Regions from separate parts of the Homo sapiens genome. Here region 1 is linked to region 2. The links come from fine-mapping of genetic effects on gene expression. A gene starts in region 2. The other region holds a variant in brackets. All regions are shown on one strand. Distances are from middle to middle. Region 1 overlaps GPAT4 (glycerol-3-phosphate acyltransferase 4). Region 2 holds the start of NKX6-3 (NK6 homeobox 3).

Region 1 (8,322 bases), 28 kb after region 2:
AACAGTGCAGTGGGATGGGTGTGGGCACAGGAAGTGAGGTGTCGGGGAGCCAGCGCAGGCTAGAGGGAAGCCCCCAGTGAAGCGTTTCAGAAGTGTCCTGCTTAACCCTGAAAGTGGACTTGAAGTCTCTATGTGTAAAATGCCAGGTGCTCCTACAGTTCCCCGTGTGCTGGGAATCCACAACCATGGTGTCCTCCGGCTTCGCTGGCCAGCCTGGCACATTCCTGGGGGCGGGGCTGGAAGTCCTTGGAAGAGAAACTAGGTCCTTGACCAGCCTCCTGCACATGGGCACAGCCTGGACCACACTCCTGAAAACCACTCTACTAGCATTTGCCTGCTCTGCGGGACATTCATACCTGTTTGTTTTCTGCCGTCCAGCTTCCTAACCGCCTTCAAGGTCCCCTGAGACCAGGAGAGAGAAGGAAATCCTAACAACCCCAGAGAAGGCCTGCAGTAGGTTGGAGCGCACTAGGGCCTGCAGCCACACTTCTTACTGAGAGTCCTGCTGTCAAAAGCCCTTGTGTGTTCCTACCTGCCACACTAAGCATGAATGGGAAGTCCGCAGCAGCAGCCTGGACGAGGGAGGGTCAAGAAGAAGGTGTTCCAACTATTTGCTTTAATAAAAACGTTTACTAGAAACACTAGAAAGTGTTTTCCCCCTCCCGCTCCCCCTCTCCCTCTCCCTCTCCCTCTCCCCACGGTCTCCCTCTCCCTCTCTTTCTACGGTCTCCCTCTGATGCCGAGCCAAAGCTGGACTGTACTGCTGCCATCTCGGCTCACTGCAACCTCCCTGCCTGATTCTCCTGCCTCAGCCTGCCGAGTGCCTGCGATTGCAGGCACGCACCACCACACCTGACTGGTTTTCGTATTTTTTTGGTGGAGACGGGATTTCGCTGTGTTGGCCGGGCCGGTCTCCAGCTCCTAACCGCGAGTGATCCGCCAGCCTCGGCCTCCCGAGGTGCCGGGATTGCAGACGGAGTCTCGTTCACTCAGTGCTCAATGGTGCCCAGGCTGGAGTGCAGTGGCGTGATCTCGGCTCGCTACAACCTCCACCTCCCAGCCGCCTGCCTTGGCCTCCCAAAGTGCCGAGATTGCAGCCTCTGCCCGGCTGCCAACCCGTCTGGGAAGTGAGGAGCGTCTCTGCCTGGCTGCCCATCGTCTGGGATGTGAGGAGCCCCTCTGCCTGGCTGCCCAGTCTGGAAAGTGAGGAGCGTCTCTGCCCAGCCGCCATCCCATCTAGGAAGTGAGGAGCACCTCTTCCCGGCCGCCATCACATCTAGGAAGTGAGGAGCGTCTCTGCCCGGCCGCCCATCGTCTGAGATGTGGGGAGTGCCTCTGCCCCACCGCCCCGTCTGGGATGTGAGGAGCGCCTCTGCCCGGCCGCGACCCCGTCTGGGAGGTGAGGAGCGTCTCTGCCCGGCCGCCCCGTCTGAGAAGTGAGGAGACCCTCTGCCTGGCAACCGCCCCGTCTGAGAAGTGAGGAGCCCCTCCGCCCGGCAGCCACCCCGTCCGGGAGGGAGGTTGGGGGGGGGGTCAGCCCCCCGCCCGGCCAGCCGCCCCGTCCGGGAGGGAGGTTGGGGGGGGTCAGCCCCCCGCCCGGCCAGCCGCCCCGTCCGGGAGGGAGGTGGGGGGGTCAGCCCCCCGCCCGGCCAGCCGCCCCGTCCAGGAGGTGAGGGGCGCCTCTGCCTGGCCGCCCCTACTGGGAAGTGAGGAGCCCCTCTGCCCGGCCACCACCCCGTCTGGGAGGTGTACCCAACAGCTCATTGAGAACGGGCCAGGATGACAATGGCGGTTTTGTGGAATAGAAAGGGGGGAAAGGTGGGGAAAAGATTGAGAAATCGGATGGTTGCCGTGTCTGTGTAGAAAGAAGTAGACATGGGAGACTTTTCATTTTGTTCTGTACTAAGAAAAATTCTTCTGCCTTGGGATCCTGTTGATCTGTGACCTTACCCCCAACCCTGTGCTCCCTGAAACATGTGCTGTGTCCACTCAGGGTTAAATGGATTAAGGGCAGTGCAAGATGTGCTTTGTTAAACAGATGCTCGAAGGCAGCATGCTCATTAAGAGTCATCACCACTCCCTAATCTCAAGTACCCAGGGACACAAACACTGCGGAAGGCCGCAGGGTCCTCTGCCTAGGAAAACCAGAGACCTTCGTTCACTTGTTTATCTGCTGACCTTCCCTCCACTATTGTCCTATGACCCTGCCAAATCCCCCTCTGCAAGAAACACCCAAGAATGATCAATAAAAAAAAAAGTGTTTTCCCTTTCCTACAACTTCCCCTGGGTAAGAATTCTGGTTGTATCGTCAGTGGTTGGGTTGATCTATGTAAGACCATCTGTTTGGGGCCATATTTGTCTCGATAAAGTGCCAAACTCTTTACAGCAAACTCTATGCCAATGAAAATCTCACAAAAAGGCATTTCCAGTCTTCAGCTATTGGCCCACACTGTAAGAAATAATCCACACAGCCCGATTGCTGCAAAAGACTGTCTCCTGCCACATCTTCCTGCCACAGGTGACTCTGGTGGCGATTTGGCCAGGAAGGAAGCTAAAGGGTCCTGCCACACGAGCTTCTCTTGTTGATGACAGATGTCTGCTGACAAAGGGTGCCTGCCCCAGGGTGCATCCCCAGCTGGGAGAGGGCCGGTACGTGCCATCTCAGAACGCAGCCCAGCAGAGGCATCCAGCCCTGGCACCTGGGCACTCTTGGAGGCCAACACAAAGTTCTCAACTCGGCGCCCTCCAGCCTGCAGCTGATCCCTGCAGAGTAAGCCTCAGGCTGACGGAGATAAAGTTTGCCTGGGCCCAAGTTCCAAACTCGGCCGTTTTGTTTCTGTTAAAATGCAATTGTTTTTCTCTGGAGTGTGTGGTGACTGCTCCGCGTCAGGAAGATGTATGAAAACCTCCACTTCAATTCGGCATCCCTTTTCTCCCAGACAAACACGGTCGGATTTTAATAAATCAAAGAGCCACACTGTTTAATAAAAATTTATTGACTTACAAGTGATTATTTATCAAAAGACCATTAATAGCAGGTACTGAAATGATGTGTTACTGGGTGGTGCTGGGAGACTAATAGGAAATCAATGCAGCTGGCCGGCCAGAATGCATATGAGAAGCCCACCCCCCGGCAGCCAGCGCAATCACCCCCGCAACACACGCCAGGTGCCACCCCTGGCGCAATGAAAAGTTCCCCCTTTTTATTTATCGTTTACAAATGAAATGATCAATACTTTTAATCTAGAGCAAAATTTATTAACTTTCCCATCGGAGAGAGACATATTGACTGGGGGAGAGAGTGGGGTGTGCGTGCTGTAGAAGATGGATGGCTGCGTGGCCATATCCTAACCTGTCCGCGAGGCAGTGCACCTGCAGCTGCCCTTCCAGCCTACGGACCGGGCCACCTGGGACAAGTGCACCTGGAGAAGCCGAGTCTGGCCACCCGGGATGCACAGCAGGCAGGTGGGACCTATGACATGGGGGGATCCTTCATGCATCAGGGGACACTAGCAAGCAATAGCCCAGAAAATCAAGTTCCTGGCCAATTCCAGGAAGGAAATGGCAGGATTCAGAGACCCAGATTTCCACAGGACAACAGGGTTAGTGCCCACTGTTTGCTGTGCCGTGAAGGTCACACGATGGCACCCAAAAATGCCTGTCACTGGTCTGGGAAGGGCATTTCAGGGATCTGGAGCACTCCCCCTGACCCCTCACACATCAAGCCTCTTCTCTGAAAGGCAGCACCAGGGACGGATTCTGACACGGTGAAGCATCAAGTCCCAAGGCTGGTTCTGCTGTCAAGGGAATCCCACTAGCTTTATTAAAAAGTTCCCTCTTGGCTGGGCGCAGTGGCTCACGCCTGTAATCCCAGAACTTTGGGAGGCCAAGGAGAGTGGATCACCTGAGGTCAGGAGTTGGAGACCAGCCTGACCAACATGGTGAAACCCAGTCTCTACTAAATACAAAAAATTAGCTGGGTGTGGTGGTGCATGCCTGTAATCTCAGCTACTTGGAGGCTGAGGCAGAAGAATCACTTGAACCCGGGAGGTAGAGGTTGCAGTGGAGCTGAGATTGTGCCATTGCACTCCAGCATGGGCAACAAGAGTGAAACTCCGTGTTTAAAAAAAAAAAAAAAGTTCCCTAACTGGTGGGTGGAAAGTCTCATGTTTGAGTAAAAAAGGCTGTCTGAGAACCACAATGAAGATACTGCCCAGCCTGAGAGCAGTATGGCCCCAGCCCCATGGCTGCCTAAAGCCCTTGAGGTCACCCTCAAGTGGGTTAGTTCCACTAGCCCTGATGTTTTAGAGAAGCAATGGATTCAAAGCTGACTTCCCGTATTTCCAAACCCAGAAGACTTCAGAGATCAAAGCCAAAGTTTGAACTATGGGCTTAAAAACAGAGAATTCAGAGGTGGACGAGGTCTCTGAGGTCATCTAGCCAAGTCCCTAGTTATGACTCAGGAGACGGATGCAGAGAAGTGAAGGTGCAGCAGGCTTGGAGGGGGGTTAGCAGCTGACCAGCACTTTCCACTCATTACACCACTGGGTGTCATTCCCAGCTCAGCCCCACCCTTGCTGGGGTAACAGGAGGGAACACATTATTTTGTACTTTGCATGTTTCTAAGTGTCTTGAGTTTTTGCCCCATAAGACCAACTCGGTTACCCCAAACCAGATACTCTGACTATGGGTCACTTGGGGCTTGCAGGACCCCTAATTTAAAAGGATGGAGCAGTCGCCTGGATGATGGTAAAAGGCATACACGGAAAGGGGAGGTTACGTTTCTGCAGGCGTGAATCAGTGCTCTCCTCACTGCCCGGCCCGCACAGGACTTCCCTCCACAGCACTGACTCCACGTGACTTCACACCAGGTGCGGCCACACCTGCCGGCAGGGGCCGCAGACAGCTGTGCTGAATGTGAGACAAAAGCAAAACCTGTGTGTGTGTGTATATATAAATACCTATGCAAATCACGAAAGTAACAAA[C/T]CATAAAGTTTCAGATGAACTTTTTAAAAGAGAACCTGATCTTTTAAGACCAATTACTGATCCCTCCAGTTGGTTTACAAACACTGTAAACATCACCTATAAAAGCTGAAAATCACTTTTTATTCTTAAGCATTTTGTAAAACAGTTCCTAAGAGACTTATTAGTCATAACACTGACTTTATTTTTTCAGTCTTCATTTGAGAGCAAAAAGATTTCCCCCGGGCTGGCAACAGGGCAGGTGAGGAAATGGGAGGCTCTCCCAGGGAGGTCACAGGTAGGTGCAGAGAAAAGGAGATTGCAGGGCCAACCCAGCAGGTACCACATGCAAAGTGGATCTGTCTGCAGCCCCAGGAGCACAGCTTCACTCCCACCCACTCCCTGAACTGCAGGCCAGAGGGCGACCTTGGGGACGTGACACTCAGCACCACAGGCACAAAATCCTGAGAGGCATCATGACTGTGCCACGAGGGAGCATGGGTCCCAAGTGAGGGCTGGTGGGGCATGAATGGGGAGCTGAGGAGCATGAAACTGGTGAAACCCCAGAACCCACAGGGGCTGCTTGGCCTTGGCTCTGCCTCCACTGTGACTGTACAGCAGGCACCAGTGGCCGACTCTTTTCCTGTGGTGCCTGCTCTGGCTGTGCAGAAGCTGCCATGCAGCACATGCCCTGCCCACCCTGCCCCTCTGCAGCCCTCCCCTGTCCCTCCCCTGCAGAAGCCACCATGCAGCACAGGCCCTGCCCCGCCCCGGCCCCTCTGCAGCCCTCCCCGGGCCCTTGCTCCTCCCCCACCCTGGAGTTTACTCATTGCTTCCCCTAGGCCTCACATCAGCGACCCGCACACACCCCGTCTCTGGAGAAATCCACGTCTGTGCTGGAAATTCTAAATTAACCAAAGATCTGCAAGCATCTGAGACGAGCTGTTCACCTTCTGAGCTGCAGGGTTCCTCGCTCCAGCAGTCAGTTGGCTTCTCCGCAGCCCCAGGGCCATGCTCCCAGAAGAGAACGGGAATCCTCACGAGAAGCCTGCTACTCAGGGCCACAGCCAGGGGAGAAAGTAAAGGGAGAAGTCCCCCAGTTCATTCACCAGCCAGTTTTATTTACTCACAAGAACAAATCCAAAGCCCAGTGCAGCAGCTCTGAGCTCAGGCCTGCCGTGCCCCGTTTTGTGGGCCTGTACTTGAAACACTGAACGTGATGTGTCCTTCACTCACCCGCAGCACTTTAATCCCCACAACAGCCCTGTGAGGTAGGAATCACCACCATTCCCCCCGACTCATATTACAGATGGGGAAACCGAGACACACATTCAACAAAGCGCGCATCACATGGGGAGTTCAGGGTTAGCCTGGAGTACGAACACACGTTCTCCCCATGGCCCAGTCAGCGGCCCACCTGGCCTCTTCCCCTCCCTTTAGTAACCCCATCAGCAGCAGCATAAAAATCTAACCCTTCATTTTGCTGAAAGCCCCTGCAGATGACAGTTTCCTTCCTATCATGTCTGCAGAGCTCCAAGGCTGGGGGCGATGTTGAGGCCGAAGCCAGCCACAGTGCCTCAGCTGTGCCTTTCCTGGAGAGCGGGTGGCCGCCCCCAGCACATCCCTGGCACACGGGCTTGCATAACAGACTCTTGTACCGCCATCTCTAGCACAAGACCATGGCCACATCTCCCCAACCACTCAGCCCGCACAGCGTGCAAAGGTGGGGAGTTCACTTTAATGGCATTCCTCCAACGACTTATTGTAAAAGAAACAAGGCATCTCGTCCTGGGTCGCAACACCCAGCAGCATCCGTTTAGACCACCAAGGGTAGGCTGCGCCGGGTGCACAGGGATCCCGCTGCGGCTCGGCGAAAGCCGGAGTCCTGGGATCCAGAGCAGCCCGGGGAGCCCTGGAGTCTGGAAAGGACACAGCAGTGGGGGCGGCGGCGGCAACTCCAGCTCTGAGCCCGTTGGCACCCCGCACGGTGGCCCCAGCCAGCTGGAGGCAGGCTCAGGAGCGGCTCCTGTCCTTGTGGTTCCCCACGATCATCTTGCTGTACAGCTTCTGCTGCTCCTCCTTGAACGTGTCCTTCACCTTCTCCCTCTTCAGGCCCCCATCCCTGGAGAGACAAAGGCTGGATGTAGTAACAGCCAAGAGGGCTCCCAGCCACGCTCACACCATGGGAGATGCACCATGCTGCCCAAACACCAAGAAAAACCTGCCAGAAACAGGGTACCCCGTGGCACTCTCACCAAGACAACCTCAGGGGATTTGGGGCTCCGGGATCCCAATATCCACCCTTTCTATCTCAAAAGGTCTACCCTTGCCCTTGGGTGAGAATTTACTACTCACATTCAAGGTACTTGATAACTGCTTAAACCTACCAAGGAGTTTACAATTCTTTCTACTCTAACATTCATCTTCACCTCACAAAGGAAAAGGAGGAATTCTGGCATTATGGAAGGTAGACATGCTTTAAGAAATATCGACTCATAACGTATCTGTAAAATCTATCTGTAAAATGTCATTTGTTTAATTCAGACCCAGGGATACTCTGAACTCATGCAGAGAGCTAACACAAGGGGTAACGCGTGTTCTGACTTCTTCCATGCTCAAAAAAAGAGTGCCGTCAGGAATGGAGGTTTACCTCCGGGGCTGCCTCTCAGAGTTCCAGCCTCACTGCCCCCGTGCCTCCCTGCAGCAGCCCCAAACCAACCCACCAGACTTGGGATTGTTTCATTACAGTCCCATTGCCTCTTGCCTGCTGGCCCCCTCCGTGCCTACACTCTAGAATTATCACCACCTTCAACAACTTATAAAAATCCAAGCCCGCTTTCAGTCTCTCCGCTACACCCTTTAAAATCCATAGCAAAGGCATAGATTTTAAAAGCAGCCACTCTGTCTTTGTTAAACTTCAGAGATGGGAACATGGGGCAGAAGTTAAACCTTCAAGCTCTAAAAGTCTGTGAGATGTGGGTTCAAAATCTAGCTCCAGTGCTAATGTTATGACTTTGGAAAAAAGTGATTTGAGTCTCAGTTTCTCATCTGCAAAATGGGAACACTGTTTACAGCGCTGCGGCTACTGTGAGGGCGAAAGAGACGATCACACAGGGCCCCAGCAGCTCAGTGACTGGCACACAGTGAGTGCACAATCCACACTAGCATTTTTTAAAAGGCCATCATCTGAGAGCCAATCTATTCCCTGAGACTCTACAGTTGGGTTTACAATGTGAATTTCTACCCTTTCTTTTCTCATAGATAATGCCCATCTAAGTCAAATGCTCTCCCCAGTTGACCCTTGGCTCTTAAACCTAAATGCCCCACAGAGTGGAAAACTTTCTCTGAACCAGCATTGAC
Region 2 (8,287 bases):
CCCCACACACTCTGCCATGCACACAGGAGGAGAGCTGGACCTGAGGGCCACCGCAGCGGTGCACACATTCCTCTGGGCTGACGGCATGACCTCTGTAAGGGACTCCTGCTAGTCCCCTCTTGGCATGAATGACTGACTGTAGACGCATGACCTCCAGGCTTCAATCCTGCCTCTTGCAATGACAGCTGATCTGTCGGAACCAGGACACAAAAGCAGCAAGAAGCGGGGAGAGAGAGGGATAGAAAACAAGCGCAGGAGAGCCTGCGAACGCAAAAGTGAATGAGGGCTTTTTGTGGCTGGGGATGGGTTTTGGTTTTGGGGTTTTTTTTTTAAATTGTTTTGACTTCGTACAGGGTACTTTTTCCCAACCTCATCTGTCAGAAATCCATGTGGGCTTCCTGGAAAGAAAAAAAAAAAAAAGAAAACTAGGCATGAAATCAGTTTAACACCTTAATCTTAAGCCATGTCCTCATCTGCCCACCCTCCCCAACCCACATACCTCCATTCCACTTGTGACACCCCCTCGACTCCCTGGTGACGCTCCTCCCAGATCGCTCTACATGACATTCAGGACACACACACACACACACACACACCACTCGCCTCCACTGAATCTACACACAGATTTTACTGTGACTTCTGAAGCTGTATAGACTCTGCTGTGGATAAATTGGAATTTTTTATGTTGTCTCTCTCTCTGCCAATTTCAATACGAATCATCTTCCAATGGAAAATCATTACCTTGAAGAGTGCATTCGGGGTTCCTTGTGTTAGGGACTTAAGAATCTGAGGCGAGGACCCCCAGGCTTACCTGTAGGACTCAAAGGGAGCCAGGACCCCATCTGAAAGGGTCTCCTCTCTCAGTTGGGGGACAGGCCGGTGGCTGACCCAGGATTGCACCAGCATGTCCATAGAGAAGAGGTTTTCTATGTCTTCAAGCACTATATCATAGTCCGTGTTCAAAGTGTAAACTGTACAGTAATCAGCCTTGTGTATATGAAAAACAATAAATACTATGCAAACCAATAGAAACATTTAGCAGTACGTACAGAGCCTGACAGCGCAGCTCCTGAGGACTTCTGCGGCTGCAGGAGAAGGAGCTGTGGCCTGTCTTTCAGTGAAAGAGGAAGGAAAGGAGTAGGGCTAGTGAATGTATCTGCCAGGTCTTAGAAGTCAGGACCACCCAGGGTCTCCCAGAGTGAACTTGGTGCTCTAAGTCCAGGCAGCCTGCAGGCTGGGGACCCTGGGTGCAGGTGCCAGGCTCGAGGCTGTTCCCTGTCCTGCCTCAGTGCCTCCCCTCTGCCCAGCCCCTGTGGCCTCTTGGAGAGGCGAGCCAGGGGGCTCCCCGGACCGCATGGCCGGTGAGAGTAGAGTCGGAGGCGGAGAGCCTGGACGCCCAGAGGCCGGGGCCAGGCTCTGGGTCAAGGCAGGAAGGAGACAGACAGCTGGCAGTTCCTCGCCTCGGTGCCATCAGGGAGGAGCCTTAAGTTCCACTAGAGCCTCCGGCCCAGGGAGGCCAGAATCAGCACAATCCCGGCCCCGCCCTCGCGGCGGGCGCCCCCAGGGCCAGGAGAGAGAGACAGGGCTGGCTCCTCTCGCCCCTGGAGCCGCGGTGTGGACGGCCCGGCCCCGTCCGCCCCGCCGCTCTGCGGGAGTGTCCTCGGGACACACTTAAACCTTCCAAGTAGCACAGAAGCCCCCTCCACGTCAGAGGCCCCCTGGCCGCGGGGCCTGTGAGCGGAGAGGGGCCCTGCTTCCCACACAAATCCGCCCCGGTGCACCCCCGGCCAGGCAGGCCCCGGGGCGGCCTAGGCGCCTTGTCGGCCGGGGGTGGGGCTGCTTTTGCTTCCTTTAGAGGGGCGGGCAGGGAGAGGAAGCTCTAGCTCCGGGCCTGAGTTTCCCCGAGGCTGCGTCGGAGGAGCTGCAGGGCGAGCCCGGACGGCTGCCGTCTCCGCCAGAGGCCACCCCGGCCCGGCCTCCAGGGCGCAGAGGCGCCCCCCTCCATCCTCCCCCATCCCGGGGGCCACGGCAGGGGGGCCGCACAGCGCGGCTGGGACCGATTCGGTGACGGCCCAAGGAAGCTGGGCTCAGGGCTCGCCTCTCCCGCCTCGATCCTGCACCTTCCTCTCCCAGGTCGCTGCTGCAGCCAACCCAGTAGCCCCCTTAGCGCCCCCGCGGACCCCGCAGCTCCAGACTCCGCTTTGGCACCTCTGCTCCGGCTGGCATGGCTGCACGCTCCGGCTGCTAGTAGGAGCCGTTAGGGGAGGAGTTTGGGGTCTCCACACGATGCCTAGAGAATGCTGCAGTCTGCACATTAGACGCTTTTTAGAAGTTTTGAAATTACCTTGATTTTTTTAATTGTTATGAAAATGGATCTTTTCTTGACTCTCCCACATGCTCTGTTATGGGAGAGAATCCCCTACCCTACTCTGATGTATAGACCATTCTCCCTTCACCAGCCGAACCAATGTCAAAATTAATAAAGAAATGGACTAATGGCACAGGGCTCTATCTCTCCTTCCCGCTCGTCTTTGGGGGGTTAGGGGTGCTGAGGCCAGCGTAAAGCCTGGGTTGTGATGTGAAGGAGTCTATGGGTGGGGCTCAGGTCCCAGAGAGCCCGCCAATGCCCAGTCCTCCCAGAAGCCTGGACAACCCTTTAATCAGGACCACCCACCTGAGAGATGCCTCCAGAGAGGTGGCAGAGTAGCTTTCTGTTCCACCTGATGGCTCCCATGAGATGGGGAGAAGTTGGGGGTCTGGGGAGGGGCCACCACAACCCACCAGGGTTCTTGGCCAGGCCCCCAGCTGGCATGCACTGAGGGGGCCCCCCAGCATTCCCTAGGAAGGCATCTGGCCCCAGTACTCAATGCCATTCAAAGTTCAAGAACTTGTTCTTGCTGTAGGGAAAAAATTGCCCTATTCCTAACTAGTTGCTAACACTTCCTGCAAGGCTGGTCACCAAGCTGACCTCAGTTTCCTCATCTCTCTAATGGGAGAATGGATTAGGTGGTTGCTAAAGTCTCTTCAGTTTCTCATCCTAGGGGCGCCAGACACCAACGCCTTTGTCAGGCTTGGCATTAATTAAGAATCAAATCATTGGCTGCGGCTTTCCTGCCACATAAATTCCCATCATGAGGGGATGACGGAGTCACAATCCCAAGGCCCCTGGAGCACCCCAGCCCCACCCCACTCCCAGCCTCTCTCCTGGAATCGGACAGGCCGTTCAGGCCAGTGGGCAACCGCAGCAGGTCATCTGCAGCACCCATGGGGCTTTTAAAAATGCAGTTTCAGAATCACAGTTGCCTGGGGGGAATTGGGTGGTGACACCGGGAACCAGAACCAGGTCTACCAGATGGCTGTGGCACGCGACCTGGTGGCAAAGCCATCTCAGACGAAGACGTAGCTCTTTTCTCTTTAAACCAAATTTGTAGGGAATCATTCCACACCCTTTGTGAGATCTTTCTTGCATAACCTAAATCCCTGTGCTACAGAGGGTCAACTTCTGCATGAGAAGGAATCCTGCCCTGAGCCTTGGGTCCTCTGCTCCCCACTGAAAACCAAGACGGCCTGGAAACCCAGGAGAAGCTCAGTGAAGCAGTGCCTCTAGTCTCCCACCTACCAGGGCGGCCTCTGGGGAGTGAGAGAGCAAGCCCTGCAGAGCCCACGCCTGGTCAGGAAGGGCTCTGGGGCCACCAGGCACAGAGAGGAGCAGAAGTCCATCTGTCTGGCAGTCACAGTCTTTCCTAGCATTTTACATGTTCAGGCCAGTGGCATGCTAGTTTCCAGTTTTAGAGAAAAACTGCAGGGAAGAATCCTGCCTGGTCCAGAAATCACCCATGTACCTGGAAAGTGGGCTCCAATTCCTCTATACCTTGGTTTTCCTGTTTGTAAAATGAGAGCTTCCCCCAATAGAGCCTTGTATGTTGTAAAAATTTATTCGAGAAAAAAAAAAGCATATGCATGTTCTGTGATTCAGCCCAGTCCACTGCATCAACTACTAACTGAGCACCGACGGAGTGCCCGGCACGGGGCTCCACCACCCTCTCAGCCATCAGGGATTTCAAACCCGGGCACCACGCCAGACAGAGCATGGCCATTGCTCCAGCAGAGGCACAAATGAGGAAGAGATTCTGATAGGGAGGTCACGGAAGGCCGACCAGAGGTGGAGGCAAGAACATGCGTGCAGGGCGGCCCTCTCTTCAGCCTCCTGCAGTTGGAGGACTCACACCCCGGCACTGTCAGGGCTGCCTACGCCCCGCGCTGCCCTCTTCCCAGCAGGCTCCCACCCTAGGCTCTCAAGCCAGCCACAGGGACTTGCATCCCCCAGAAAGCAATGCCACTCAGCCTCTTACCCCATCCCCGCACTTACCCCCATCTTATGCCACTTACCCCATCCCCGCATGCGGAAGGGAAGGAAGCGGCTGCGTTCTCCTGTGGAGCTTGGACATGTGCACATAAAGGGGCCGGCGCAGCTCCGGACAGTGGCCTCTGAGTCCAGCCTCCTCTTCCCTAGGGGAGCAGCTGTAGGAACAGTGACTTCCAATTGCCTTGGGAGCCTCCAGGGGCCCCCAGACGCTCACCTTTTCCTAGATGCTAGACTTGCGGGGAGCAAATGGACCCTCCGGCGATGAGTAGGGCTTCTAGAGCTAATTCTCTGTCTCTCTCTCGCGCGCGCGCGCATACACACACACACACACGCGCGCGCGCGCGCGCGCGCGCACACACACACACACACACCCTGGCTGATTGTACAGTCAATCTTTCAAAGTGCAATTTGTCTAGGAAAAGCCAATGTGAGGCCCGTGTGCGCCCCGACCAATGGCGGCGCGGCTCCGGCGGCTCAGCCAGTCTCCGGCCTGTATTCTAATGGGCCGTATCTTTATCAGGGAAATGTTCCTTCTCTGAACTTAAAACTTCTCATGGAGGGTCCCCCGACTCAGAGGCAGAAAGGGGGTCTGAGCTGAGGCTTAGGGGGCCACCCTGTCCGGCCAGGGCAAGGAGAGAGGCCAGGAGCCCTGGGGAGGCCTCCCACCTGCCCCGAGCACCTGACTTCCGAGCAGCTGATCGGGTGCCGGTTCCTGGGCCAGGGCCTGGCCCATGCCTTAGGTGGGAGGCAGTCAGGAGCTCGGAGACGGTCCTAAGCCTCCAGGCCTGCCATGAGATTTGGGGCTAGAGAGTGGGCTCTTGGGTTTTAGGGGCCTGGAGAAGCCTTCCCTGTCCTGACTGGGAGATCATGGAGTCCAACCTGCAGGGGACGTTCCTGCTGAACAACACGCCGCTGGCTCAGTTTCCGGAGATGAAGGCCCCGGTGTGCCAGTACTCTGTGCAGAACTCCTTCTACAAGCTCAGCCCCCCAGGGCTGGGCCCCCAGCTGGCCGCCGGAACCCCCCACGGGATCACGGACATCCTGAGCAGGCCCGTGGCTGCGCCGAACAACAGCCTCCTCTCCGGCTACCCCCACGTGGCAGGCTTTGGGGGGCTCAGCTCGCAGGGGGTCTACTACAGCCCCCAGGTAGGGAATTTTTCCAAGGCTGGGAACGAGTACCCGACCCGGACCCGGAACTGCTGGGCGGACACGGGCCAAGACTGGCGAGGCGGGCGGCAGTGCAGCAACAGTGAGTACGGGTCCTCCCCAGCCACCTCCCGGCACCCGCCAGGCCCCGGGGGGCAGAGGACGAGGAGGGGCCTCCTCCCGGGCACCCTGCACCTCCGCCCTCTCCCCCAGTCGCCATTAACCCCTGGACTCGTAGCCTCAGCTCAGTGCAGGCTGAGTTCCACCCTCTCCTCCTTCCCATCCAGCAGTGCTTGGACACAGGTGTCTGAGCCACCCCCCTCACATGCCAGCCACCTCAGCTGCCCTCCTAGGGCCCCCGGCAGTTCCAGATGTAGAGAAGGCCCCACAGCCCACGCCTGCCCTGCACGAGGTCCAGTAGGCAGCCCAGCTGGCTTCTGCAGCCCAGGGCCCATGCAACCACTTCTTCACCCAAAGCAGGCAAATGCTACCCCCGTGAGGAAAATGTCCTAGCTCACCTTCCCAGAGAGCCCTGGCATCACTCAAGGGTGCAGAACGCACCCTGACCCCATCCGGGTCCAGCCTTTGAGCCAGGGGGCTGTTGCCCACCACATCCTCGGGTTTCTAGCAACAGCAGCCACACCAAGTAGCCTGTCTCGGGGAGTTGCTGCTGAGTCCAGCTGAACTTGGCCTTGGCTGTGGGGAAGCAGGGGGCCTCTTCTCAGCCGACCCATCCCTCAGCCAAGGTTTTCAGAGGGTGGGCCCGTGATGCCAGTCAGGGTTACTGGAGGAGGTGGCAGGGCAGGTGAGGCTCTGCTGGGAGGCAGGGAGGTGAGAGTTTTTGGAATCTTCTCCGTGCCACCGAAGCCCTGCCCACGTCAGGCAGGGGCCTCCATTTCTGTCTGATCTCCGGGCTCTCCTACGCCAATGGGGGCTTGGGGCCAACCTAGGGAACCCCAAAAGCACACCTGTCCCCCCATTTGCTACTCTGCCTTGCCGGTCACAGTGCCTGACAGCCACCCCTCCATGGGCTGCCACCCATCGCTGTGCCCCTGGGGGTGAAGGCCTCCTCTCTCAGATCCTGTTTTAGGCTTGGCTTCAGGGGTGCTTTAAGCCTCAGCTGACTCTCTCTTCCCTCCATCTCCCCCTCCCCTCTCCACATCCCACACACCACCTCTTCAGTCCTGAATGCAGGTACACACACAGGGACATAGCCAAGAAAGTCAGTGGCTAATGAAGGCAAAGGCAGAGAGACTTGAACATGATCTCTCAGGAGGGCTCTTCCTCTCTCTGTGCCTCAGTTTCCTCACCTGTAACTTGAGCTGTCAGACTGCACAGAACGAGGCCTGACATGTGGGAACCACTGCCCACAGCTCCTTCCCGAGCCTGCTGCCCTGGCCAGGCTGGGGGTCAGGGTCTCTGGCCTCTGTGCCAGGCTCTCCAGGGTGGTTGAAGCCACATAACTTCCAGGCCTGGTGACATGGGGAAGTGGCAGCTTGGGGCGTCAGGTTTGCCCCTCCCTGGTTTCCTGGAGACCTGGGAAGTTGAGTCTCAAGAGCAAGGAAGTTGGCGGAAGCCGGGGGTGGAGGGAATTCACAGGCCCTGGTCCCTAATTATAGGAGGAGGGTGACCTGAAGGGACATCCCTGGGACAGAGAGGGAACTCCTGTTGCCCCTCAGGGGAAGGCAACATCAGCGAGTATTGAGAACTTTAGACAGAGAGGCATGAGGCTCTGCTGCCCCTAAGTCCCATTACACTAGGGCAGCTGCCCTCTCGGAGCCCTGCCCATCCAGGCGGGGCAGAGGTCACAGTCACTGTTCCCCAATATCAAGAATGCTGCTCAGGGGAAAGGAATCTTGGTGTCCTGGAAACCTCTGCAGGAGGGAGAGGGGCAGGCATGGTGGTTGCCCTGCCAGACGTGCCTAGCCGCAGGGTCCCCACTTATTCTACTAACCCCACACTTCCTTCCTCCTGCCAGCCCCAGACCCCCTGAGTGACAGCATACACAAGAAGAAGCACACCCGGCCCACCTTCACGGGGCACCAGATCTTTGCCCTGGAGAAAACCTTTGAGCAGACCAAGTACTTGGCTGGCCCCGAGAGGGCACGGCTGGCATACTCACTGGGCATGACCGAGTCGCAGGTCAAGGTAAGTCTGTGCGGGAGATGGCACCTGCCCTGCAGGGAGGAGCCTGCCGGACAGGAGGCCACTGCGTTGGAGAGAGGTGGCCACACAACGCAGCCCCCCAGAGGGCAGCTGTCCTGGTGTCTGGGCACTGCCTGCCTGCCTAACCCTGGAGCCTGTGGTAATTAACCATAGCCGGGAAAGGCTGAGCCCCATTCTCAGAGCCTTATGTGCGGCACCTCATTTCATCCTCTCAGCAACCCGGGGGGTCGGTATCATCACCCATTTCGCAGATGAAGATCAGTGTCTCCCGGCTGGGAGAGCTGGGAGAGCTGGCAGAGCTGGGGTTCAACCCCAGATGTGGGGGACTCCAACCTGAGGCTTTCCCTCTCCCCCCGTATTTGGCCAAAAATTCCAAGCACGGTCGGCAGTCTCTGGCCCAGATTCATGCTTGATGCTCCAGTCAGCAAAAGGAGCTGACCTCAGTTTACCAATCCTTAAGATGAAGACAACGTCTCCTTCTACTAAGCAGGATCAGATGGGCTTCAGGGGCCTGGAGCCTTGTCGCCCACGCCAGGGCTAGGGAGGGTGAGCCCAGGCTCTCCCACTCCACACGCAGGGGCCCCAAATGCCCCCTAAATAGACCCGGGG

What was found. PIP is the estimated chance that this variant, and not a neighbour inherited with it, causes the effect.
Region 1: its variant is fine-mapped to the expression of NKX6-3 in whole blood (TOPMed, PIP 0.91).

The regions. Positions count from the first base shown.
Region 1 is chr8:41,619,655-41,627,976 of GRCh38, reverse strand. GPAT4 (glycerol-3-phosphate acyltransferase 4) reads right to left here. Exons shown (of 13, transcript NM_178819.4): 13 at 2,976-7,084. The coding sequence ends at 6,976. Among named protein-coding and RNA genes, the nearest start is that of NKX6-3, 27 kb to the left of the region's middle. RefSeq lists an enhancer at 4,877-4,976. The variant C/T (reference allele first, on the strand shown) is at 4,987.
Region 2 is chr8:41,647,439-41,655,725 of GRCh38, reverse strand. It overlaps NKX6-3 (NK6 homeobox 3), which reads left to right and starts at 4,909. Exons shown (of 3, transcript NM_001364841.2): 1 at 4,909-5,615; 2 at 7,491-7,660. The coding sequence starts at 5,234. ANK1 (ankyrin 1) reads left to right here. Exons shown (of 43, transcript NM_000037.4): 43 at 1-2,501. RefSeq lists silencers at 1,572-1,911, 1,932-2,001, 2,022-2,071 and an enhancer at 1,599-2,392.